Regions from separate parts of the Homo sapiens genome. Here all the other regions are linked to region 1. Evidence: fine-mapped expression QTL. A gene starts in region 1. Each other region holds a variant in brackets. All regions are shown on one strand. Distances are between the middles of the regions.

Region 1 (5,104 bases):
TGGTCTCGAACTCCTGACCTCAGGTGATCCACCCACCTCGGCCTCCCAAAGTGCTGGGATTACAGGTGTGAGCCACTGCGCCAGGCCAAGATTACATTGCTATAGAAGTTTTGACATTTCAAAACTCCTTTGGAGCTGAGAACCACTATTGACCCTTGTGGCCGCCCTGGGAGGGAGGGTGTACAGGCATTGCTATTTCTGTTTTCCAAAGAGAGAAACAAAAGTCAAGAAATGTTATATATGTTTTCCAAGGTAATAGGTAGTGGCAGAGCTGTTACTATAATTTAGGACTCCTGGCTTGGCGCATGCATTGAACCATACTGCTTTCCTGTATTCAATGTGTCTTATAGGAATCATAGCTGAGAACCATTCTCAAACCTCATGTATTTTCTCTGAAAGAAACTATTCTTCATGTGATCAGTAACTTGGTGGAAAAGACAGATCTTCTTAACAATATTCATGAATTAAACAGTTTTAGGATAGATATTAAGCATTTCCAATCTTCCTAAGGTATTTTTATTTTTTTTAGTGGTGAGGCATAAGATATATTTAAATGAAGCTTAGTCTGGGAAACCAGCATATTGCAATAAAAAAATGCAAGTCTTTGCAATCTTGTAATTCTTTGTCTAAAGCTTTTTGTACAAAAGAGGGTATTTTAATTCAATAAATAAAAGATGGGCACTTCCAGCTCTCCTACCAGCACTAGCTACCACTTGCAGCTAACACACATAGAGAGAAAATACACAAACAAACAGTGTTTGATCCTGCTTTGCTGCAGGGTGTTTTCATCTTTCAAGAGACCAAGGGAAAAACAACCTCAGAACTTTACCACCAAAACTTCCAAATTTATTGCAACACAACGTAACGGCAAAATACTATTTTCTTAGCACACGCAATTTTGAGCAACCACCACGGCCAAGAATGCTTGTTTTTATTTTTACAATAAGTCCAAAGAAAATTTTTAATTCCACTCTTGATTTAGGAATGGCAAAGATGCTGTGGGTTGTTTGGAGAAAACTGTCATGTCTAATTATTCAGTCTTATCCTCTCTCTTTAACCTGTGCTTGAGGCGTTTATTTCATGTTTATACTAGTTGGACACAAATCATACTTAAAAGAGATTTCATATCCTGTCTTCCTGTGAAAAGCTGAGCTACGATGGCAGACTTAACAATGCCAGCCCCTTGTTGGGCTTATCAGTAACAGAAGCATTCAGCCTAAGAAAACACTTTAAGTGTAAACAAGACACAGAATCGCACATCTAGCCACATTCCACTGAAATCTGTCTGAATAGAGAGAAGTAGAGATCCACACGAAATAGTTTCTCTTTTAAGTTAGCACCAATGTGCCCATTTCTCATACTGCCATTCACAATCTTTATAAGCAATTTGCTATATTGCTATTACATTCCACATATTCCAAGCAAAGTTTTTAAAAAAGCAAGATAATAGAGACTTAAATTACTTTAAAATTCTACACAAATGTCATACTTTTCAACTTATTTGTAACCATAATTAAATTGGTTTAAAGGAACAGTAAAAATCTTGTTATAATATTAATATCAATGCAGTTTATTTATAATTGATAAATATATATGTATATTACTAGTTGTTTACAAGGATGCCAAGTACCATCCACTTTCATCTCAACTCTCTTGAAACTGAAATTTGCTTACTCGGTCAAGCTTTGTATTGTAGTTTCTTAAAGACAAATACGTTTCAATGATAATGAATGGAAAGTAACTATATACACAGCTTAGAAATTCATCAGACATACCTTGTTTGAAGAAGGCAATTTTTTTTTCAAAAAATTTTCACCACACAGAATGAATATTCTTTTTCCCTTAGGCTTTCCTGCATCACAAATCCCATCCAAATTATTCTAAGGAAGAAACAGGGAGAGGTCCAAGAACCTTTTCTCTTCTTCTCAGAGGAGCTAATCGAACAGTCCCATCAACCTCTCAGTACTTTGAAAAACACATTTTACACCCCCCCCCACACACATACACACACACACATGCTCACACATACTGCTTCTCACACTGGTTTTAGTGCTGAATTAGGCGGTCCTCTTTCAAATTTCCACTCCCACTGCTTTTTTTTTTTTTTTTTTTTGTAAGGATTTCTAAATATTCTTTTGTAGCCCAAAGCACAAACTTTCAGTAAGCAAATTCTACAATTTGACATTCTAAAAAGTAGAGGAGGACCACTTAGATAAAAATGGAAAGTAAAAGATATGTTTTAAAAATTACTTCAGCAGGGGCAATTCAATTTTTTCTTTCTTTTTCAAAAGCTAGTGAACAGCTGGACTGAACTGCACAAAGAAGGAAAACTGTGCAAACACTCTCAAACTTATTCTACTGGACTCCCACTTTTGAATTGAAAATATGTACTTTTTCCTACATATTAATGCTATTTTTTTGTTTTGTTTTGCTTCAGTCCTTTCTGCGTTTTGGCAAGTTTTATGAAATGACTCAATTATATGCTGGTAGTTACAGGACACAAGATAATCATAGTGGGAAGCAAAACCTGACTCATGTTTCAAAAAAAATACTGATGAATAATCTCACATGAAATCTGCCAGTTTTAGTTATTTATATATTAGTGTCATCAATGAAATCTAAGAGATTCAGATTCAAAATGTGTATTAACGTATCACATCATTAAAAAAAAATCAGACCAAAAAAAAGTACATCTGGCAGATCTTGAGATTCCAGTGTCCATCAGTGTGGCAGAGCATCTGTTTTCAAGCACAGGAGAAGGTAGCAAAGAGTCATTCCTCCTCCTGCTGGGGAGTGTGCACTCACGCAGCTAGGGAGGAGAACCTTCTTCCATTCGAGAAGCCTCCTGTCCTCATCTGTTGGCCCTGGAACTGCTCCTTATTTAAGATAATTGTTTGACAGATCTTGTGCTCTAATGCCAAGTTATACATGGGATGATTGCTGGCACGTCTTCATTGGCTATATAAAATGTGGCCGAGAAGATAGGCTCTCACGGTAAGAAGTCTGTGTTGATTAGGAGTAACTTTGGCCCAGCTCTCTGGTCTAAAGCTCTCAAATGTGACTATGTGAATCTGGGTGGGATTCATCTGCTCAATGCCATTGTGCAGAGATGCATAAGCTTTTTAATGCTATAAAACATGGTAGCTGAAATTAAATGCCACTTTTTCAGAGGTGAATTAATGAAGAGCCTGATGAAATTCAAAGCTTTTTGATGTATAAAACTTGATAAATGGAATGATTCCATCAATAGGCGAAGTGTAGCAAGCTATCTAGATGGATAGTATGTAATTTCTGCACAGGTCACTGTTAAATAAATACATCACTGTACACTGATCAGGAATCTTCCTCCATTAAAGGAACATGAAGACTAAAAAAAGGGAGATAATGATTTGAATGTTATTTAATCATTTTTACCCTTACTTCTTTTGGTTCTGCAATGAAATTATTTCTCAATCCTCTTTATTCCTCCACTAAATTCTGAGCCCAGGTTCTTTGGTGGTAAGGATGATAATGCTGTAACACTGAGGATCCCCTGTCCTACCACTTGAATTAGGGCAGGTTCAGAATGGCAGCCTAAGCATAATTCATAATCACATTATTCCTAATACTACTACTACTAATGCTGCTGGACTCGGTGGCTCAAGCCTGTAATCCCAGCACTTTGGGAGGCCGAGGCAGGCAGATCACCTAAGGTCAGGAGTTCAAGACCAGCCTGGCCAACATGGTGAAACCCCATCTCTACCAAAAATACAAAAATTAGCCAGGCGTGTGATGGCGGGTGCCTGTAATCCCAGCTACTCGGGAGGCTGAGGCAGGAGAATCACTTGAACCTGGGAGGTGGAGGTTGCAGTGAGCCGAGATCGCACCACTGCACTCCAGCCTGGTTGACAGAGCAAGACTTGGTCTCAAAAAATAATAATAATAATAATAATAATGCTAGTTGCTGTTTATCAAATACTTACTTTTACTAAGGACAGCAACCCTGTACATATATCATTACATTTAATATTTAGAAGAATGTAGAAGGATTAGTAGTATAATCTCCATTCTATAGATAAGAGAACTGAGGCCTAAAGAGATTAAGCAACTTTCCCAGGGTCATGCAGCCAATAAGGCAAGATATTGGATTCAAATCCAAGGCTTCTTGACTCCAAAGCAATGGTGCTCTATTAAGACTTAGAGCTTCTTTTCTTTTACTATAATAGTTTAACTTGTTTTCTTATGGTAAATAAGGCAAAATCAAATATAAATGTATTGAAAAGCATATGAAGAGATGCTCACTTGCAGTGATGAAGAATTTTGGAAATAGTAGTGATGGTTGCACAATATTATGAATGTAATTACTGCTACTGTATTGTACACTTAAAAATGGAAAAAATGGCAAATTTTATTACATTTTTTTTACCACAGTTAAAAATGGTAAAAAAGGAGCCATTCTCTTTTAAAAAACAATGACATATCATTTTGTTTTCATCATCTTGGCAAAAATTAGAAATCTGAAGAAAGATCATGGCAGACATGTCATAACCATGATGAGCTGCTACTGGTGAAGACAAATGTGGCTATTCTAGAGGAAAATCCAGAAGTACTTGGTTGAATTACCTGTGTACCCCAGGATCCATCCACCTCTTTCTGGGGGTATATTCGTCAGTGAGCTTCTCACACAGGGCCACTAGAAGTCCATGACCAGAGAATTCATGAGTTAAGTATGGGAGAAGCACACCACGAGGTACTGTTCAGAAGCTGGAAGCAAAGGCCTGGAGCCCTCGTACGTGCTGTCCCCGAAGTATTCTCTCGGATATCTGCGTGGCTCCCATGCTCACCTTCTTAAAATCTAGGCTCAAATGTTACCTCTTGAGTGAGCCCTTTCCTGGCTGTCCTGTTTAAAATGGCACCAACATTCCAAGCCTTTCCTTTTCCTCTTCCCTGTTTTATTCTTCTCTCTAGTACTTATTGTCCTTTAATAATATTTACTACTTGATTTTTTTTTTTTTTGAGTTGGAGTCTCACTCTGTCGCCCAGGCAGGAGTGCAGTGGTGCGATCTCGGCTCACTGCAAGCTCCGCCTCCCGGGTTCACGCCATTCTCCTGCCTCACCCTCCCGC
Region 2 (5,104 bases), 43 kb before region 1:
AAAGGGATGGTTTGTAGAAATGGGTCATTTGGGCATGAGGAAGCAAGAATTGGAGGCAATGATAGTTATCTTCACAAGTAGGATTGTTGTGTGCTGTGATGCCAGAGGGTGAGCTAGAACTTAAAGAACAGACTTTCTATAGAGGCAAATTTTGCCAAGAAGAACTTTCTAGGAACTGAAATTGTCCGTGAAGGACTGAGCTGCCCCAGGAAGCAGTGAGTGGGGTGTTGGTAGAAGTATGCAAGTGGAGACTGAACAGTTACAGAGAGGATTTCTACATTGGGTGAGGAGTAGAATAAAACCTCTCCCAATGCTAAGAGTCTGTAATTCACAGACTCTTGGATCCAGGAGCTCTGCCAGGCCACCCACCCTCTAACTGGGTTCCTGAGATGGTCTCAGAGTTGCTAATGGCTTCCAGCTGTATCCAAAAAGCATATTCTTTTTTAACCCTTGTGTACCTGAATGAGGAGAATTGCATTTCATTCAGGCTGGAGAGAGAACTGAAGTTTTATGCTCTTTTCTTAAACACCCATCCCAGACAATCTTTGCTACTCAGGGCTGGGCCAACAGGGAACTTCTGCTGGGAACCGAGGGGTTGAGTTTGATCACAGGCTTAAGCAATTAGTGGTTTACATTAAGAAGTAGAGCGCTGTGCTTCAAACAGTTTTGTGGTTTCATTCTCCCCATCAAAGGTTGCCTCCTCGCCGGCTATTTTCTTTTTACCTTTCATTCTTTTAAACTCTGATACTCAAGGCTGCATTTACTATTATGAGTCTCAGAGTATTTTTTAAAGGCATATTTTGGGATGAAGATGCCAGTGTGGTCTCTCTTCAAATTAGTGAATTGTTTGATTCCTGGATGTAACTGTGTGTTCAACTCTCCTCTTTTCCCCAGATCACTTCCTCACTCCCAAATGCATCTCCTCCCTTAGAGGTAAAGAAAATGAAAGATTTCTTCTTTGTTCTTAATTTTTTGAAATAGGAAGTGACAAGCTGTGTGCATTAAGATTAAATTTTGATGTGACTCTGGCACTGTGAGATTTTGAATGTCCTGTCAGACCAACTAAATATTTTGGGGTTGTGTAAACGAGTCTCTATCTGGAAGCTTATTTCATGAGTATTAGACAATGATCAAACCTGTTGAAAGACTTCTGGGTGCACATATTACATGCAGTAAGATCTTCCATGAAATAATTGGTTTAAAAGACAAGGGAAAATGTCACATTTTACTTCCTGCTAATCAATTTTCCCTCCTTTCTTTAAGGGGGCACTTGTTTTTTGTTTGCTTGTTTATTTTGTCTTTTTTTTTCCCCTTACAAATGTCAGGGAAGTACCTTAAATAAGATCTGCTTTATCTGCACCTAACCAGATTAGCAAAATTGGTGGATTCACTCATTAATTTGTCCCACGGGGGAAAAAAATGAAATCAGGCACGTGTGTTCATGCACTTTGAAAAAACAGGGAGCCACGGTAAAGTGTGGCTAAAGGTAAAAAATTTGTTAAATTTGTACAGAAAATTAAGCTGGAGAGAGTGAACTAGTTAAATTTTGCAGAGTGATTGCCAAAATTATTAAAAAGTGTAATGTCTATGTTCAGCCAGGAAAAAGCAGGCATTTGCATCTTTCTGGCAGCTCTTCTTTAAGTATATGGAAACTATGGTTTGTTTCTCTACAATATTTTCCCAGTTATTTGTGAGGTAGTCTGTTTTCTTGTAACAGCCAAAGAATCTTCCACCGCTCCACTTAAGGCCCAGATGAAACGGATGTTGGCCTTTCCTCTGAAGGTCTTTGAACTATTCAGTGCTCGCAGCTTAGGTTTTCCTTTCTTCCTCTTTCTTTGGTTGTTAAGGTTTATTCGTATCTCCCTTCCCCCTTCTCTGAGTTTGATCCTAAAAGTGCAGAAAATCGGATTTCCTTAAGAAGATAAGCTAAAATTAAGGCAGCTCAAGAAGTATCAGTTGTAGGTCTAAAGGGAGCGGGAAGACATTTGGCAAATGCCAGAACAGTCAGAGGGGAATGCTGTGTCCCCACAGCTAACCTCAGGTGAAAAATTATTTGTAAGTTCTAAAAAGAACTTATTCTGGAACCTTTGAAGAAAGCAAGACAAAAGCCTCTTCCATTCCTTCCGGACTGGACAGTTGCTAGCGTCCGTGAGGGAAAGTCCACACCAAAGCCACAGAGAGCCGTGGGGAGCCCAGACCTCTTGAGTGGCACCTTTGCACAGAAACCTGTTGCTTGGCCACCTGCTCCGCTTCTCCCTTTGCGACCCCACCCACCCACCGTCTCATATGATTCCTTAAGATAATCTTGCCTTCTCATAGACGCTCTCACTTTCGTATCAGAAATCACATTAGAGCACCTCAGTATCTGCCAAGGGTTCCTTCCCAAAGGCCCTTGGAACTAGCCACAGGGAAAAGAGAACCACCTGCAAACCAGATCGAACTGTAGGATTACCTTTAGGTCACTGAGGTTCATGTGTC[C/T]GCTGTAGTGATCTCACAAGGGTTCCTGGGCAAAAGGTCTCATCTCAGAACAGACAACTGGTACTATTTGAGTCAATTTTTAGTACAAAATTGGAATCTGAGAGGAAGAACTGCAAATATTTCTTCTGTTGGTTGGGTCTCCTGCCTAGGCTAATAACAGTGATTATTAGATGATGTCACATACAGCAAGCCGATTATGTAGTAGGCCAAATCAAACTGCAGATTCCTTATTTTGCCACTCATCTTTTCAGTAATCCCAGGCAAGCCACATTGCTTCTGGAGAACAAGTTTCCTTATCAACAAGCAATTATCGTAAGCTTGCCTCATGCCTGTTAATAAGGAAGAATTATTATTTTTATTTTTTTAATGAAGAAGAATTATAACATAAAAAAAATCACTTATGTATGAAAACTTTTAATATTAAACTTAATTTTGTTGCACTGTGATATTCAACTAGAGTAAAATCCTGTTTTTAAGAGAATTATGCAAAAAGTCCTCAGTTTAATGAAATAAAAATATCATTAATTTGAAGATGAATGCATTGTTCTCCTTGATCCTGATATCTAGGTCACTTTAATTCTTCCTTTGAAGCACCCTCTTTTGCAAAGCATTCTTATCCATTTTTCTTAAACAATCTTTGATCACATTGAATCTTTGCTCAAAAACCACCACTAGGTTTTTGCTGCCATTAGGAAAAATTCCAAAATCCTTAAGGCCATTCCATAGTTTCTTCCATGGAACGTCTAGGCTTGCCAATACTTGCCAATAAAGTCTTTACTTTCTAAATGCATGTTGTCTCGCACACTTAGCTTGAATCATTTCTCACCTCTGAAACCCTTTTTCCTTTCATCTGTTTGAATGTTACTATCTTTTAGGTCCCAGTTCCAGTTAACATCTTCATTCATCTACTAGAATATAAAATTCATGAGGGCAGGGACTTTTGTCTGTTTTGTTCACTGCTGTTCAAGAGAATGTCTGCTGAATGAATAAATGAATGGATGGAGTGATTGGATGACAGAGGGTAACTGGCCTGTGGCAACACAGTTTTGGGGCAGCTGCAGAAGTTTGTGTCTCTAAAAATACATATTTTAGTTTACAAAGGACCCTAATATAGGTTCTTTCATTTGGTCCTTACAAAACCCTAAAAGGCATTAGTCTTCATTTTTCAGAGAGGCAAGTTAATTTGTTCAATTAACAATTGAACAATTGTTCAGATATCAAGTGGCAGAACTAAGACCTGAACTCAGGCCTATAAACCCAAAGCTTTGCCAGCTCCACCTGGTTGCCACTTCCATGACTGAAGGGAAGAAGTTAAACTGCAGCTTCTCTAGTCTAATCTTACAGGCTTTTCTGAACTTGAAGATTGCTGACAACCACTAGTGGGTGAATGCAGTATATATCTTACAAATAGGTTGTGTGTATGCATGTGTGTGTGTGTTTATGTGAATACATGCATGCATCTGTGCATTTACCCCAAATACCTGCAAAGTAACTCTTCTAGCGTAATTTTCCATTGTACTGTTTTCCCGTTATTTCTGAGAATTGCCAGGGTAGAGTCTACTCAACTGAAAATCTGTAACACAGACAGTCTCTGCCTTCTTTCTCACCCATATCAGAAGAAGGGCTAGAAAGTTAATCCTCTTCCTTTTTCATGGTCTGAGAAAGGGCCCACAAACCAATCTGTGTGGAGAACCCACTGGTGTTGGCGCCAGGTGTCTAAGAAGCAAGAAACACTGGGGATTACTTACAAGTTGCTACACATAAACCTACCCAAGAAGCTGTGTGCATGCTATACCAAATCTTACAACCATGGAGTCGTATTTCTCTTCATCAGTGTCCAATGCATTAAGTAACTAAGTCCCAGAACAATGACCTCTTCATGCCCAAGGCAGTAGGTTCAGGAATCATCTACTCTTTCAAGGTTGATTGCAAAAATCTTTCCATGCCTTACAAGGTATTAAGATTAACTCATTGGAGAGAACTATGTGAACTACATGTTGTACATTTCACCCCAAATTAAGTCTATTTCAACAGACTCCAAAGTAAATGGAAATATTTCAGAATGTAGCTCTACTGCCTGTGGAGAATATCGTGTTTATCTCACTGATTGTTGTCTTCCTCATGTAAATTTCCTGCTTAGAAAACTCTCAGGAGTCCCCGCCCTCTAGTGAATGACAAAGAAAAAAAGCTTCTCAGATTGGTGTTGCCTGGTGGGTCCTAATCCACCTTCCAGCTGCATTTCCGTGACTCCTCAGTGCTTAAACCCAACCTTGCCTTTCACTGCTTCCTGACCTCATCCTCCACTTGTTTTCCATGGTATGTGGGCTTAGTCCACCTAGAAAGCCCTTTCCCAACCTCTGCCTGTAAAAATTCACTTATTTTTCAGGTCTTATCTTGAATGTTCTTTCATAAGACCAATAGGAGTCCTATTGTAGACTCCTTGTTTGTTATTCTCCTATAGAATTTACCACATTTTGCTTTATTTTATAGTGGCTTTTGTTGTTGTTCCTTTGTCCATACCTAATGAGCACTAATTGGATCTTCATGGTACTTTTGGTCTTGCTGGGAAGATAGACTGTATAAAAAAAGCTCTTAGAGTAATACGTGGTAAATACAGACAGTCCCT
Region 3 (5,104 bases), 130 kb before region 1:
CCTGGGAGACAATGTGGTATGGAGGGCATCTTCCTAGGGCATCTCAGGAAACAGTTGCTGTCAAGCAGCCCCTAATAAACAGTGATTACTGCTGCAGTGGGCTTGCCACGCTGCCACAGGTTTGGCAGGTAAAGACATGATAGACCCAAATGGATTCAGACGGTGTATTACTTATGTAGTCAGCAAAAGCAAGATCAGCATGATGCTAGCTCCCTCATCCCACAGGACAGCACAAAAACAAGGAGCCAGGTGATGGACGTCATGTGTGGTGGGATACCAATTCTAGAAGGCAATGAATGATTTTTTTTTTTTTTTTTTTTGAGAGATGGTCTTGCTCTGTGGCTCAGGCTGGAGTGCAGTGGCGTGATCAATGAACACATTTTAAAGCCTGCAGCTGGGGTGGGCGTGGTGGCTTATGCCTGTAATCCTAACACTTGCAGAGGCCGAGGCGGGCCGACTGCCTGAGCTCAGGAGTTCGAGACCAGCCTGGGCAACAGAGTAAAACCACGTCTCTACTAAAATACAAAAATTAGCCGGGCATGGCGGCATGTGCCTGTACTCCCAGCTACTCAGGAGGCTGAGGCAGGAGAATTGCTGAAATCTGGGAGGCAGAGGTTGCAGTGAGCCGAGATGGTGCCACTGCACTCTAGCCTGGGCAACAGAGCAAGACTCTGTCTCAAAAAAAAAGAAAAAGGAAAAAGAAGCCTGCAGCTGTACTGTAAAGAGGAGCGAGGTATAAAGTCCTAGCCTTCACTGAAACCAGGAAAGCTAAAAACAAAGTGCTTTGGAGAAACCTCCTACAAGATAGAGAGAAAGATGGATGACAGCGGCCTTGGGACAGCTCCCCACAAACTACATGTCTCGCCATGTTCCTGGGATGATATCACGGTATTCCAACAAGACTTAGGTCCCACTGCAGCGGAGCCTGGTCCACGTGGCCTACGTGGAGGCATGCAAGGTTGCCAGGGTACCGGGCCGGAGCCATTTCCCTAGAGCTGCCACCTGACTGTGCTCTGTGGAAGGAACTGGACATGGGAAAGCTTTTTACCATGGAGTCTGGATTGGAGGGTGCCTCATCGTCCTACACTGGCTTGCACCCAAGGAAACTCTCCTGAGATAGAACTACAGTTTGGTCAAGAAAAATTTCTCAGATCAACTTGTTTTTAAAATGCTTAGTTTTTAAAAATATTCAGAGTCCCTTGAAATTCAAAACAATTCATTAATGAAATGACTTTTTTAAAAAATTAAAAGTGAGGTTTCCACATTAAGGACTCCTGCTCTTTCTTTTCACCCCTCAGCTGCCCAGAACATGCATAGTCTCTGCCCCTTGTTCTGTATGAAACCATTTTCAGAGCCTGGAGTAACTCTTGAGCTGGCGAGCAACCCTTATGTAATGATCAGGGAAATAAGACAAGGGACATGGAGGGCAAAAGGCAACTGACAACTTCTAAGTAACTTTCCAGTCTGCCACTGGAATCCCATGGACCCGGGACTCCCTGTTGCAGGGTGAAAAACAGGGTGAAAATATGGGCACAAGACGTGTAAAGCTGAAAAGATGGTTCTGTAATATGTGACTGGAAAGATGGCAGCTGGGGGAAGAGGGAAACAGGGCTGAGAGAAAAGTGGCTGATGAGACCAGGGAGGAAAAAGCAGACAGGGCAAGGTGGCTATTCTGTACTGAAGACAGCACTGAATCCGGAGTCAGGAGACCCAGGTTCATGGCCCAGCTCTCCGTCCTACCTGCTGTGTGACCTCAGGCAACTCCTTAATTTCTCTGTGTCTCACTGTTCTCATTGGAAAATTGAATAGTAATTGAGGCTGTAATGAATTGTGAAAATATGTTTGGCACATGGCAGACTTCCCATTATGTTCGATTGTCTTTCAAGACCAATCTCTCCCAAAAGAAGTATGGAACAAGGATGGTTTTGAAATATGTATTTATTCAACAACATGAATTTTGTGTGTATTCAACGACAAAGTGTATACAGTGGCTAGTTCAGTTCATGGCACTTTGGGACTTCATAACTGAGATCAATGATTGGTTTTACTATTGTCACCAAAATTTCCCTAGGCCTTTCAGCCTGTCTGTCCGTGCAAACGAAGTTACATGGACAATAACTACTCAGTGATGTTGGCTTGTCTTCACTGGCATACTGCAGGACCAAGTATTTAGGGGGTTCTCTGAGGGATGCCCCTAATCTGCTCATGAACAAGCCTGCAGGCCCCTCTGGGACAGTCTTGGCTGCTGTCCGTGTGGGCAAATCCCTGCTGAGGCTGACACAACTCCACTAGTATTTTGCTTCCAGAGATCTTCACTGACTGTCCAGGATTAGAAAGTCTCCAGGATGAAAGGTTGATTTTCCACCTTAGGAGAATGCCCCCTGTCTGAAGGTAGAACAGGCATGTGGGTGTTCCAGGCCTTGCATTTAGGCCATAGAGCTGGAAAGGTCCCCTGCAGTTTCCACACTGCAGTTGTCATCCAGTTCAATGAGGGTGTTTTCTTAGAAGAAAACAAATTACACTGACTCTTTGCCCTTTAGGAAGCTCCGTCTGCTCCTTTGTTTTGCTTGGTGTGTGTCTTAGACAGTCATTACTAAGTTTGCAACCTTTTGATTTGTCCCTGTTCCCTCTTTGGCTTTAAAACACTGCACAACCCTCCTATTGGGGTTGGAAAGAAACTCCCTTTTACTATGATTTCAAGGAGAACTTGTAGAGTTACTAACGTCATTAAAAAAATCATTATCATGGTATCAGGGTACAGGTTTAAGAATGCCTTGGGGATGTCAGACCAACAACAATTCAATTGGTCTTGGGTCTTGTTCTGGCGTTTGCACAGTTTCTATGGCTTACGAACCCTCCCAGTTTCTGTGCCCTGGACAGTCATGTATGAGCTCTTTGTTGAGAACCCAGATTCCAGTTTGCCGTTAACCTGAATACACCCTGCTCACCTCAACCATGTGTGAGGCTGGAGTTGTTGCAGAAAGGAGCTATTCAGTGGGGATTGTGTTTTTTATAGCAGGATCTCAGCTGCCAAGCTGGATAGAGTATTTG[T/C]TTACTTGGGCAGCTTATTGCCCGCAGGACCTGTTTGTGTAAGAGGGATGGCAGGGATAAAGTTCAGCTCAGTATTTTTCAATTAAAGGACATTAAACAAAAAGCAAAGACTTCCTTGAAACTGTGGTCTTTGAACCTTATTGGTTTTCCATGTGGATGGTTATTTATATAGGACATTTCTCCTCAGCTAAGCCTTTATACTAGAAACAGAAGTGGATCCCAGAAGCATCACATCTGCCGCCCTGGCAGTCTGAATAGCTCTTCAGCAGTTAATGGTGTATAACAAGTAACATCTTGTAGTCATTGCAGGCAAGAGAAGTGAAAGGGAGTCTTAGAGAGACGGTCATTGGCTTTGTATGGTAAAGCTAAACAAAACAAAGGAAGACTATAGAGCTGGAAGACCATCACTCAGCCTGCGTTTGGCCTTCCAGACTCAGAAACTTGAGGACATGCATTCATTGGCATTCAAAGCAACTTGATGCTTCAAGGAACTTCAAAAGGTTGTGGGTGATCAGATAGAAGAATGTGGGTGCTCACCTCCTTTCAGCCACGTCAGCTTGGATTGCTGGGTGGCCTTGCTGAAGGGCCTGCATTGTGGGCTCAGCCCCTAAGGGGAGGGAAGTTTCACTCTATTCCTTCTCTCCAGAGTTGTTCACCTACTTCCAGATGAAGACCATCCTGGAGGAGGGTGGAGTGAGAGGGTTCCTGGCTCTCCTGTCCTGCTCCTGTCCCTCGTCCTGTTCCTGAGACTCTGCTGTCTTCCTGATCCTAGAGTTCATGAATTATTCCAGTTATCTTCAAACAATTGCCTTTTTGCCTGAGCTACTACAAATTGAGTTTCTGTTCCTTGCAGCCCAGAGAACCTTAACCATCACAGCATTAGGTGGCCTGGCTCCTGCCTCTCTAGCTTCATTTCCTGGCCCCTTGCCTTAAGTTCCACACTGTCATTCTCTCTGGGCCCGACACTGTTTCATACCTCCTTGCCTTTGCTTCTGTCATTCTCTCTGCTGGACCACCTTTTCCACTTTTCTTTGCCTGGTAGAAATGGACTCTTCCCAGAAAACCTAGCCCAGGAAGATTTCCCAAGCTTGCTTGTCACCTATCACATTAGTCACCTCTCACCAGTCACATTATCTGTTTATTTGTGTCTCTCTCATTCTAGCCTATAGTTTCTTCGGGTAGGAGCAAGTCATATTCCTCTTCGTATCTCAGTGCCCACCTCAATGCCTGGCATATAATAGACAGCTAAAACATGTTTGTTGAATAAAACTCAGAAAAATAAACAAACAAAAAAAAGAGTTTGCATTTCTGGCTGGGCACGGTGTCTCACGCCTGTAATCCTAGCACTCTGGGAGGCCGAGGTGGGTGGATCACTTGAGGTCAGGAGTTTGAGACTAGCCTGGCCAAGCCCATCTCTACTAATAATACAAAACAAAATTAGCTGGGTATGGTGGTGTACGCTTGTAACCCTAGCTACTTGGGAGGCTGAGGCATGAGAATCACTTGAACCCAGGAGGCAGAGGTTGCAGCGAGCTGAGATGGTGCCATTGCACTCCAGCCTGGGTGACAGAGTGAAACTGTGTATTAAAAAAAAAAAAAATTGAGTTTGCCTTTCTGCAGGAGAAATGAGAACATAAGGTGAGGAACAGAGTTACCCCATGGGTAGATACCCAAAGAAGATTCTGGTCCTAGAAAAACCATGACTGTAGCATATAATGAATAGGAGGGCATTGGGAAGGGTGGTGTAGTCTGGATGGAATAAGAGCCTCTCTTTCTCTTGCCATCATATTCTGTTTCTTTCCTGCTGAAATGTCTGCCTCGCATTCTACCAGTACCAATGTATCTGTGGTTGGCGCCATCAGGCGACTTAGGGTCAAAGTTTTCATTTTCTGGATCCCATGTCCTTAATGATGTGTATAGGTTGTGTCTCCTCGTGAGAAGGGATCAAGTTTCTGGAGAATAGGTGGGTCAGGGTTCTGTATCCAGAGAGCCTAAGTCTATTTGGAACCAGGGAAGGCCCCAAAAAGGAAGTAGCATTTGGACTGAGACTTGA
Region 4 (5,104 bases), 78 kb before region 1:
GTGATTCTCCTGCCTCAGCCTCCCGAGTAACTGGGATTACAGGCACGCACCACCGGCTCATTGTTGTATTTTTAATAGAGACGGGGTCTCACTATGTGGGCCAAACTCGTCTCGAACTCTTGAGCTCAAATGATCCACCTGCCTTGGCCTCCCAAAGTGCTGGGATTACCGGCGTGAACCACCGCACCCGGCCTAACTATTAATTTACTTCAAAGTGACAATAGAATTATTATATTTTAATGTAAGCGTTAATTTTTACTGAAAAAAAACTGTTTTCTAAAACCAAGGCTTCAGTGAGAAGAGTGGCAAATGTCTCCAATGTCTATCATAATAGAAGATAGCTGGAGTCTGTTATCAGCTCCTGCAGTCAGTTGTGATATGTTGTTGTTGTTGAAATATGTGGAGAAAATCTGTCCTCACAACAACATGTAGTCAGAGAAGGGAAGATGTCACAGAATCTCTGAAAGCGGGGTCTTTGGACCACACTTTGAGAACCACTGGTTTAGACAAATTAGTAATGAGGAGCTGAAGTTCTGGATAGTTACGTCTAATAGTGCCACCCACCAAATGAAGGGGCTGGGAATTCCCTACCACTTGAAGTTATTCGATATAGGGTAAAGGCCTCTGTCTGGCACACCATAAGTGATTCATTTTCAGGTGAGAAGTTAGACCAGATGTACTTTATACAATTCTTTCCAATTCCATAATCTGACGATTTTATAGCTGAGGAACTGGGCAGCTTGCCTTGTATACATGACTGCATCTGAGATGAGAGTTGGTCGAAGGATATCTAAGAACTCCAAATGTTCTTACCTGCCTTTACTCAGGGTGTGCAAATGGCTTCCTTCCCCTGTAGGAGCCATAATGGAGCTTCATAGCTAGTCTAGGTCTGAGCACCTAGAGTGTGTTGGGGGAGTCCTTTAAGTCAGGAACACTCTGAGAGTTCATGGGAGACTCTGAGGCACTCAGAGCAAAGTTGCAGGGATGATGGTGAGGAGAGAAGCAGCAGAAATTGGGTAGGATTTGAAGGTAAAGGAACATCTAGGAACATCTGTGTGGGTCGAGACAGAGTGGCATTATTGGGAGCATAAAGGAGAATGGAGAAGAAACAGAGAATCCCAGAGCTATAGAACTGGAGGATGGTAAACTCAGAAAAAGGGAATGAGGCCAAATACATTCAGCAGAATACAGCATTGAAACAAACCCAAAATTGTCAGGCAGTAAAAAATTGAAGATGCAAATCAGGTTATGTGCCTCCTTGCCAACCATCCCCCATGCCATATCCGAACCATGTGCTGTATCTGGGTATTTGTGCTTTATCCTGGAGGACTGTCTGAGGATGGGCCTGGTAGGTGCAGAGAGGCAAAGAGGCTGCTTAGTGAGGGAACCTCTTGAGGAGACATAAAGTAATGACAGCCCTTGGATGTCTTCGTTGACAAAGATTTTCTCTTTGATGCACTGAGAACAGATCAATCAAAGAGACATTTTCTCGAGGTTAAAATATCTTAGCATGCTCCCAAACTCTGGTGACCTGAAGTTGAGCTGCAGAGGCCAAGAACAAGTGTGTGGGGAGGTCCTCATGTTTGCAAAGTGCCACAGAGCAAATTCCTAGGGAGCAGAGATGGTAAGCAGTGGGCAGCTTACCCAGGCTGACATCCGCTCCAACAGGTTTCTGGAAGGCAGCTCCTGAAGGATCTTGCCTTTGGATACCTGAGGGGATTACACAGGGTCAGCCGATTTACACACAACCAGCAGGCTGCTTTCTTTCCTTATTTTGCCCCCGGTGAAAATTACCTTAGTTCAGATTTTCCTTGGAAGTCGGCCGAGCTCTCTGTGCCTGGTTGTACTTCTGGGGGTTGCAGAGGAGGCAAAAATCTTGGCCAAGGGGACAGGAGGAAACAGTGCTCCATGGATTGGGCTCCTGTAGAGTCCCACGAGTCTGTAGAGGCCTAAGATGGCCTTGGAGTCCTTGCCCTGGCCAGTGTTCTCATTCTCAAGCCTTTTTGTCCAGGACAACAGCATGTGCATTGGCAAAGGTGCAATTGTGAAGCTCATAGAAGCTGCTCGCCCTGACCAGAGGAGCCCATTGGGCCCCTGTTCCTATCCAGTAGCAAGCAAAACAGAACCTACAGTTTCTAAGAACATGTGGAGAGTGGACGAGTATCCCCCAGCAGGGAGAAGACCTGCTTCTGATCCTAGTGTCCTGTGGCTTCAGAGGGAATGGTATACTTCCACCAAGTCTATCAGCTCATAGACCGGGCTGTGAGTAGAGTTTGTGGAAACCGTCAAACCCTGCTAGATTTTCCTTTCTAATCTCTGCAGGCCTTAACAGTGCTGCAGAGAAGAGAATTTGCTGGATTCCTAGTTCTTCGGCCAAACCATACAGAAATGAAGACAGCCAGGGGCATTTCAGAATTCATAGGTGAACTCCCGGGGAGAGAGAATGTGTTTCTGTCCCCCGTGGCATAGAATTACTCAGGCAAAAAAGAGAGAAAAAAAATCCTCTTTCCTGGGAGATGATACAAATTTCCCTTCGTGTTTTACCGTAGTTCCTCAAAAATAAGCCCCAGAGAGTGCCCCTTTTCAGGTCTGTAAGAGCCCGGTTACTGAATCCTGAGACATTCCTATCACAACCTCTACAGACTCGCTTCAGGGGAACAGAGAGTGGGACAGGGCTTTGCTTACTTAACCACTTCTTTACATGTTTTCTTAGAAGTTGGGCCCTTGAGTGGCATCTTCTGTTGGCCTAAGTGGTTTAATAGTCCTTGTCCAAATCTAAATTAAATGGCAAAGATGTGGAGAGGAACCGCATGTAAACAAGCTTAACTTTCATCAGTGGCTGGAAAGGGAGTTTAAGGTCTTACCTGGATCAGCTCTGGGCCTGTTTTGGCTGCTTGT[G/C]TAGGTGGCAGTGGACCAGAGATCTGTAAGGACATTTGACTGGTCAGAGCATGAATTTTATTTAATTAATTAATTAATTTATTTATTTTTGAGTCGGAGTCTCACTGTATGCCCAGAGCTGGAGTGCAGTGGTGCGATCTCAGCTCACTGCAACCTCCGGGTTCAAGCGATTCTCCCACCTCAGCCTCCCGAGTAGCTGGGATTACAGGTGCGTACCACTAGGCTCAACTAATTTTTTATATTTTTAGTAGAGATGGGGTTTCACCATGTTGGCCAGGCTGGTCTTGAACTCCTGACCTCAAGTGATCTGCCTGCCTCAGCCTCCCAAGGCATGAGCCACCACACCCGGCCAATAAATTTTAACCTGACTGTTTTCATTCTTTCTATGATCCAACCTAGCAAGACATTACCAAGGTTGGAAACAAGGTGAAGCTCTATATTTGGGCAGTCCAAACCTGCCTTGGAAGAGGAATTCAAATGAAAAAAAAAAAAAGAGTATTTAACCTAAAACACCAACTAAAAACTACAGGTAATAATAACCTTTGTATTTCACAACTATCAAAGTATCTATCTTTTAGTCAAATGCCATATTTCTTTACACTTCATTATTCTTACAATAATTCTCAACTGTGCCACTCATGGGGAGGTTGAAGTAATCCTTCAGTAGAAGTGTCACTTAACATTCAGCAATTTGCTTAAGCTGCGTTAACGTGGTATTGATGCAAATAGAATTAGCTTTTCATCATTTTTAGAGGTACACAATGGGTTATCGTTAATTACTCTGTGAGCGAAGGAAACACACTTCAACATTCATTATTTATTGAGCAATTTCTCTAAAGCAAGGTTTTAAAAGGGAGAAGGGAGATAAAACATTCTGTTAAGAGAAATGCAAAGCCTTTGGAAGGGAAAGAGAGGCACGTAAAACCCAGCTGACGGAAATAACCAAATGTCATGAAGGGGAAGAGCAAGAGGGCATGGAAAAAAATATCAATTTGTCTTAGAACTGGAGTTATCCAAAATCAGCTTTTGACTCTTTTTGTCTATGTTCCAATTATTTGACACAATTTCAAAGTAGGTTTCTTTGTTTGTTTGTTTATTTTTTGTTTTCAGTCAGGCTCTCACTCTGTCCCCCAGGCTGGGGTACAGTGGTGTGATCATAGCTCACTGCAGCCTTGAACTCCTGGGCTCAAGTGATCCTCCTGCCTCAGCCTCCTGAGTAGCTGAGACTACAAGTGCACATCACCATGCTCTGCTAAGTTTTTGTTTTGTTTTGTTTTTGAGATGGAGTTTCGCTCTTGTTGCCCAGGCTGGAGTGCAATGGCATGATCTCGGCTCCCCACAACCTCCGCCTTCCAGGTTCAAGTGATCTCCTGCCTCAGCCTCCCGAGTAGCTGGGATTACAAGCATGTGCCACCATGCCCGGCTAATTTTGTATTTTTATTAGAGATGGGTTTTCTCCATGTCGGTCAGGCTGGTCTTGAACTCCTGACCTCAGGTGATCTGCCTGCCTTAGCCTCCCGAAGTGTTGGGATTACAGGCGTGAGCCACGGAAGTTTTTTTTATTTTTGTAGAGTCAGGGGTCTTGCTCTGTTGCCCAGGCTGGTATTGAACTCCTGGCCTCAAGTGATCCTCCTGCCTCGGCCTCCCAAAGTGTTGGAATTAGGGAGGCATGAGCCACCACGCCCAGCCTCAAAGCAGCCTTATTTTCTGTTTAATTATGCAGATAACATAGGCTTACTGTAAAAATAAGATGATATACTATGCATAGTAAGCAATCACCTTTTATCCTCTAGCCAGCAGTTACTGGTATACAATTCTGGCATACAGAGTTGTATCCCTTTTTCTGTGGGATGTACATGCTCTCATGTACAACACACGTTGCAAAAATGAGATTGGTTCCCATGCTGTTTTGTAGCCTGCTTCTTTGACTGAATGATCTGCCCCAGGCCAATTCTCTTGTGGCACTAAGCGCACATATTTCTCAACATTTTACTACCTGTATAGTAACTTCTTTAGCCATTCTTCTAGTGATAAATAAGTAAATTATCTCCTTTAAAAAATTATGAACAGCATCTGTTCTCACCCCGGGTTGATAATTACCTTAGGATATATTCCTGGAAGTGTGAATTCTGGGTCATTTCTCCACACTCTCATCCAAACTGTGTATTATCGATTTCCAATGAGAGTTGCTGAGAAATGATATTTT
Region 5 (5,104 bases), 110 kb before region 1:
GTGTAAAGGCTCCTTGGGCTGCCTGGGTGAGACCCCCCCTGGGGCTGTGGAAGGAGCAAGGAAGAACCTAGCTGAGAATTCGAGTACACTGCTCCTCCACAGCTGCTGGTGGGTGTGGGGTTTTGCTTTGAGAGGGTAATTGCAGGTTTCGGATTGACCAGTCCCTCCCTGGAGGCCTTACTGCCTAGAGATGAGCTTCATGCACATTTAAAGGCATGGGAAAACCACTGCAACGGCGTTACAATTTTTCAGAGTGCAGAAAATCCTGATGTTGGGTAGGTCTCCGGGCAGTCATCTACCTTGTTTGCAAAGTTGGGCTCCACCACATACTGCTTCTCATTTTCAGCAGCACCTTCAATGGTGATGAAGAAAATGTTGATTCCTGACTCTCTCGCAAGTCTTGAAGCCTCCTCCACTTTGTCCGTGGGCCAGCCATCCACCATCACCACCACCACATTGGGAGCCCCGCTTCTGTTTCCATTGGCTTTGGAAAAGAAGTTCTTGGTCACAAAGGAGATGGCCCGACCTGGAAGAAAAAGAAAATTCATGCTTGGAGTGATCACGCTGATTATAAATACAGGAAGAGATCACAGCAGCACAAAGAGGTCCAGAAAAATACACTCATTCCCTCCCTAGTTTTTTTTTTTTTTTTTTTCCTTTGAGACAGGGTCTTGCTCTGTTGCCCAGGCTGGAATGAAGTGGTTCGATCACAGCTCACTACAGCCTCAACCTCCTGAGTTTCATCAACCCTCCCACCTCAGCCTCCTGAGTAGAAGGGACTACAGGCGTGTGCCACTGTACCTGGTTAATTTTGTGTTTTTTTTGTAGAGACGAGGTTTTGCCATGCTGCCTAGGCTGGTCTCAAACTCATGGGCTCAAGTGATCCACCCACCTCAGCCTGCCAAAGTGCTGAGATTACAGGCATGAGCCACTGCACCCGGCCTGTTACTTTTTTAAAATCACTTCAACTATTTTTATGTGTACAATTCAGTGGCATTAAGTACGTTCACAATGTGCAGCCGTTACCACTGTCCATTTTGGTTTCATTTCAAGCCTTCAACTTCTAATTGTCTCCGCTTTGAAGAAAGTTTTAGGGACAGCAAGCAGGTGAGAAAGACTTTTTTTTTTTTTCCCTGAGACAGATTCTCACTCTGTTGCCAGGCTGGAGTGCAGTGGCACAATCTCGACTCACTGCAACCTCCACCTCCCAGGTTCAAGTGATTCTCCTGCCTCAGCCTGCCAAGTAGCTGGGACTACAGGCACGCACCACCACACCCAGCTAATTTTTGTATTTTTAGTAGAGATGGGGTTTCACCATGTTGGCCAGGATGGTCTCGATCTCTTGATCTTGTGATCTGCCTGCCTCGGCCTCCCAAAGTGCTGGGATTACAGGTTTGAACCACCGTGCCTGGCCAAAGACTTTCATGCGAACAGAAGTGCCCCTTTTCTGCTGGACCCACACTAAGCCCCTAAGCCAGCCCCATGTTGTTTCCAAGAGTGTAGGGTGGGAGGAGTTGACCTGGAGTGACAGTAGCCTCTTCTTGGCCCCCTGCAGCCTGGGGTGAGCCTGAGGCTCCTGCTGGCTGTACAGAGCTGTGTTCTGGGGTCAGGAGTGTTTTTCCTCCAGTTCCAGGCCAAGGGCACAGGTCTGGTTGGGCAGGGAAGAGTTGCACCCACTGGGAACTGACAGACTGTGTTCTAGCCCTGGCTGTGCTACCTGCTAGCTGTGTGGCCCTGAGTAGGTCACCCTACATCTCTGGGCCTAGCTTTCCATAACAGCAATCTACTTCAGCTGAGTGCAGCAGCCATGAAGTGCTACAAAGCCTCCTGCCATGACTTTTCCAAGTGCATATTTCACACTGAGAAGGGCTTCAGGAAATTTTCAGAGTCAACTAGACAATGACCAATTGTCTCAGTTTGCCAGGACTTTCCCAGTTTTAGTACTGAAAGCCCCAGGTTTTTCTGGGAAAACTGGGATGACCGTTCACCCTAGAGTCAGCATGGCTGTATAGAGTAGGCAGAGCTCTTAACCTGGGCTCTGTGAACCCCAGGGCACTTGAAATTATACACAGTATTTTGTGTATATAAGTATCTGTCTGGATAGAAGGGCCATAGCTTTCACGGAATTCTCAAAGGAGTCCTCAATCTCCATAAAAGTTAAGAAGCACCTTCTTTAGACTTTAGGATTAGTAGTATTATACTCAATGCATTTCTGATTTTGGCCAGCATCCTGTCTCCACTAGCTGGTATTATCTTACTTGTCAAATGAGAGCATCAAATGGTTACATATACAGATGCTGCAGAAATGTCTTGGAAAACCCATGTGAACTGGCTGCACAGAACCCACTTGCTAAGGAAAAACCTTGGCTGCTAAGAATTGCTTTTATAGCCAATGGACAATTTTTCCCAAAGCACAAAGCACCCGGAAGTCCTCTCTGGCCTAATATTAGGCACCTATAGGGCAGAGCACAAGACGCCATGAGAAGATCCCCTCAACCCCACCTAACCTTATATCTGGAGGCCATGGTGTATAGTGCTCAACACACATTCCATCCACCTTCCAGTGGGTCTTGAAAATAGAGGCTGGAAATCAGAAAACTACATTTTCCA[G/A]ACTCCCTTGCAGCTAGGGATTTAGCTTTGTTTTAGTTCCATGAATTGATGCACTTGCATGAGATTTAGAAGATAAAAGTGAGGCAGAGGCTGTACTTTTGTTTATATTTCTGCTGACAAATATCTTTAGTATCTGACTTCTCTGGGATACTGTCCGCAGAGGTGCTTGGGGTTGGTTGCTAGCTGCAGTGGTTTGGGGCGGCAGGGTGTGGAGATCCATGTTGTGGGTGTGAATGGCACAGGGAGGGCGTGGTTCTGGAGCTGGCAGCTCTAGAAGAAGCTTCCTGATCTCCTGATCCTGCTGGCTTCCTGGACAAAGCAGGTTTCTGAAGAGGTTGCCATGGCAAAATTCAGAAAGTGATTTCCTAATCTTGGAAGAAGGAGCAGCTCCCTTGGAGGTCCTACTTCTGCAGGAAGCCTTCAGACATCATCTCTTAAAGCTCAGCCTACAGTCTGCTTCTTCAGTTCTTACAGTGATTCTCCAAACTACTTAATAGCCTGAAATTCCAACCCTTTCTGTTGGAATCAGTTGAACGGATTCTGTCCTCAGAACCCAAACTCTGGACAATACAGAGGCAAAGTCAGAACATGTCATCCACTGAAAAACGTATGCTGATTGGATTGAGACCCATCGCTAACCTCGTCAAGGAACGAGAGTGCCTTCTGACATTTGTCTCCACTGGGATTTTACTAATGTAAGCATTAAGTTATAAACAAACCAGAAATCAACTCTGTCATGTGTGTGATGAAGGTAATACTGCTTTGGGGGCATGGAGAGTGACTTGGCTAGTGTTTATTTAGCATTGTTCAAAGGTGAAAAGCTCTGTATGTGTTAGATACTAATGTTCTGGTCACTATAGAGACATACACTGAAGTGGGAAGGGAAATCTTTAATCGGATTTACTGTAACTCTGAGGATGCTCCCTCAAAGACAGCTCAATTCCCTGCATGTACTCTAAGCCAAGCAACTGTGGCTCATGACTCCATTTCTTTGGATTTTGATGACAGAAACACTTTCCCCGAGAGGTGGACAGTCTCCCTCCAGTGCCCAAAAAGCCAATCTTTCATTTACAAATGAATACACTGGCATGGGCTCTTTGACAGTCTTTGAGCTTGGTTAGTGTGAAACTGTTTCCTAATGGCCAATCAACTCTGGATAAACATAAAATGGAATTTCTGGACATGCCCCACTGAGGACTAGACTTTGGATTTCTGGTGAGACCCCAAAGGCTCAGATATCACAGAAGACCTAGCTTGAAACAGAGAACATGTTTCTCTTTGCACAATCATCACTACAACGGTAGTTGATTGGAACAAGATTCTCAAGGGGCACTGAGGGGCTTCCTTAACTGGTCACAAAATTTAATGAAACAAGTGATGACTTGTAGGCCAACAAAAAAATAGTCAGGACAGCAGACTTGATTGCCCTGAAGAATGCTACCCCTTCTTGCAAACCAAGCATGCTGGGACTGTACAGTGTGTGTGTGTTAAAGATTCTTGCCCTCTGAAGCCATGATAACTTTAGAAAAGATATAGATGTTGCAGGAGTAATTTCTTTGTCCTTTTTTTTTTTTTTTTCAGATGGAGTCTCGCTCTGCCACCCAGGCTGGAGTGCAGTGGCGCCATCTTGGCTCACTGCAACCTCAGCCTCCCAAGTAGCTGGGATTATAGGCACCCGCCACCACACCCAGCTAATTTTTGTATTTTTAGTAGAAAGAGGGTTTAACCATGCTGGCCAGGCTGATCTTGAATTCCTGACCTCAAGTGATCTGCTAGCTTCAGCCTCCCAAAGTGCTGGGATAACAGGTGTGAACCACCACGCCCGACCAGAAGTTATTTCTTGACGGATTATTATTATTTTTTCCTTTTATATAGAATGGTTAGAAGACAATCACGTAGAAAGAGAACGATGGTAGCAAGATAGTATAATTTGAATCCGGATCACATACCTACATTAGAAAGTCCTCCTCTCTGAGTAATTTTCTCTATGGCTGTCTTCAGATCTCGAGAATTCGTGTGTGTCTTGAGGTTAAAGTGAGTAGCAGGGTTGTCTCTGAAGAGTCAGAACAAGAAATACAAATTAGCTGCAAAGTTAATACCTTTGGAGGAAGGCAGAGATCATGGTTGATTCTTTTATATACAAATAGAAGCTGCTTCAAAGCCTTCTGCTATGCCTTGTAAAATGTCCCATTGTGGACTGGTGTGTGTAGAGAAAAGGAGGCTATTTCAAGGCTCAGAAGGCGTGTGTTGACTGTGCCATTTCCTGGCTGTGTGATCTTGAGGAGACAACTTCTCTGGGCTTCAGATTCCTCATGTAGATGAAAACATCGTTATAACACCCATATTGCTAATGAACGGGACTGTTGTCAAGTGGGATTTTGCAAATGTCAGGATCCCATCTGTGGAGTGCTCAGCGTTCTCAGCCTACCCCAGACCCCCCTCTCCAGAAAGAGAATCTCAGCTGTCAGCCACTCTCTGGGTTACCCTTAGCACT

Alleles and levels. Alleles are on the strand shown, and positions count from the first base shown. SD is a standard deviation of normalised expression in the study named. Not every link is listed here.
As copies of G replace C in region 4, the expression in skeletal muscle of the gene that starts at base 2,042 in region 1 goes up (large effect, 1.6 SD a copy in FUSION).

Evidence for each region. PIP is the estimated chance that this variant, and not a neighbour inherited with it, causes the effect.
Region 2: its variant is fine-mapped to the expression of VIT in tibial nerve (GTEx, PIP above 0.99).
Region 3: its variant is fine-mapped to the expression of VIT in nasal epithelium (TOPMed, PIP above 0.99).
Region 4: its variant is fine-mapped to the expression of VIT in skeletal muscle (FUSION, PIP 0.95). The same link has a PIP of 0.9 or more in subcutaneous fat.
Region 5: its variant is fine-mapped to the expression of VIT in whole blood (TOPMed, PIP above 0.99).

What each region holds. Positions count from the first base shown.
Region 1 is chr2:36,693,645-36,698,748 of GRCh38, reverse strand. It overlaps VIT (vitrin), which reads right to left and starts at 2,042. Exons shown (of 16, transcript NM_053276.4): 1 at 1,776-2,042. The region is part of intron 2 of LOC124905990 (a long non-coding RNA gene); the gene reads left to right.
Region 2 is chr2:36,736,916-36,742,019 of GRCh38, reverse strand. The region is part of intron 3 of VIT (vitrin); the gene reads right to left. All of the region lies in intron 2 of LOC124905990 (a long non-coding RNA gene), which reads left to right. Among named protein-coding and RNA genes, the nearest start is that of VIT, 43 kb to the right of the region's middle. RefSeq lists an enhancer at 4,214-4,909. The variant C/T (reference allele first, on the strand shown) is at 2,479.
Region 3 is chr2:36,819,327-36,824,430 of GRCh38, reverse strand. No RefSeq gene overlaps it. Among named protein-coding and RNA genes, the nearest start is that of VIT, 130 kb to the right of the region's middle. The variant T/C (reference allele first, on the strand shown) is at 3,052.
Region 4 is chr2:36,771,608-36,776,711 of GRCh38, reverse strand. VIT (vitrin) reads right to left here. Exons shown (of 16, transcript NM_053276.4): 8 at 2,865-2,921; 9 at 1,645-1,710. All of the region lies in intron 1 of LOC124905990 (a long non-coding RNA gene), which reads left to right. Among named protein-coding and RNA genes, the nearest start is that of VIT, 77 kb to the right of the region's middle. The variant G/C (reference allele first, on the strand shown) is at 2,899.
Region 5 is chr2:36,800,860-36,805,963 of GRCh38, reverse strand. VIT (vitrin) reads right to left here. Exons shown (of 16, transcript NM_053276.4): 13 at 4,560-4,663; 14 at 300-526. All of the region lies in intron 1 of LOC124905990 (a long non-coding RNA gene), which reads left to right. Among named protein-coding and RNA genes, the nearest start is that of VIT, 110 kb to the right of the region's middle. The variant G/A (reference allele first, on the strand shown) is at 2,611.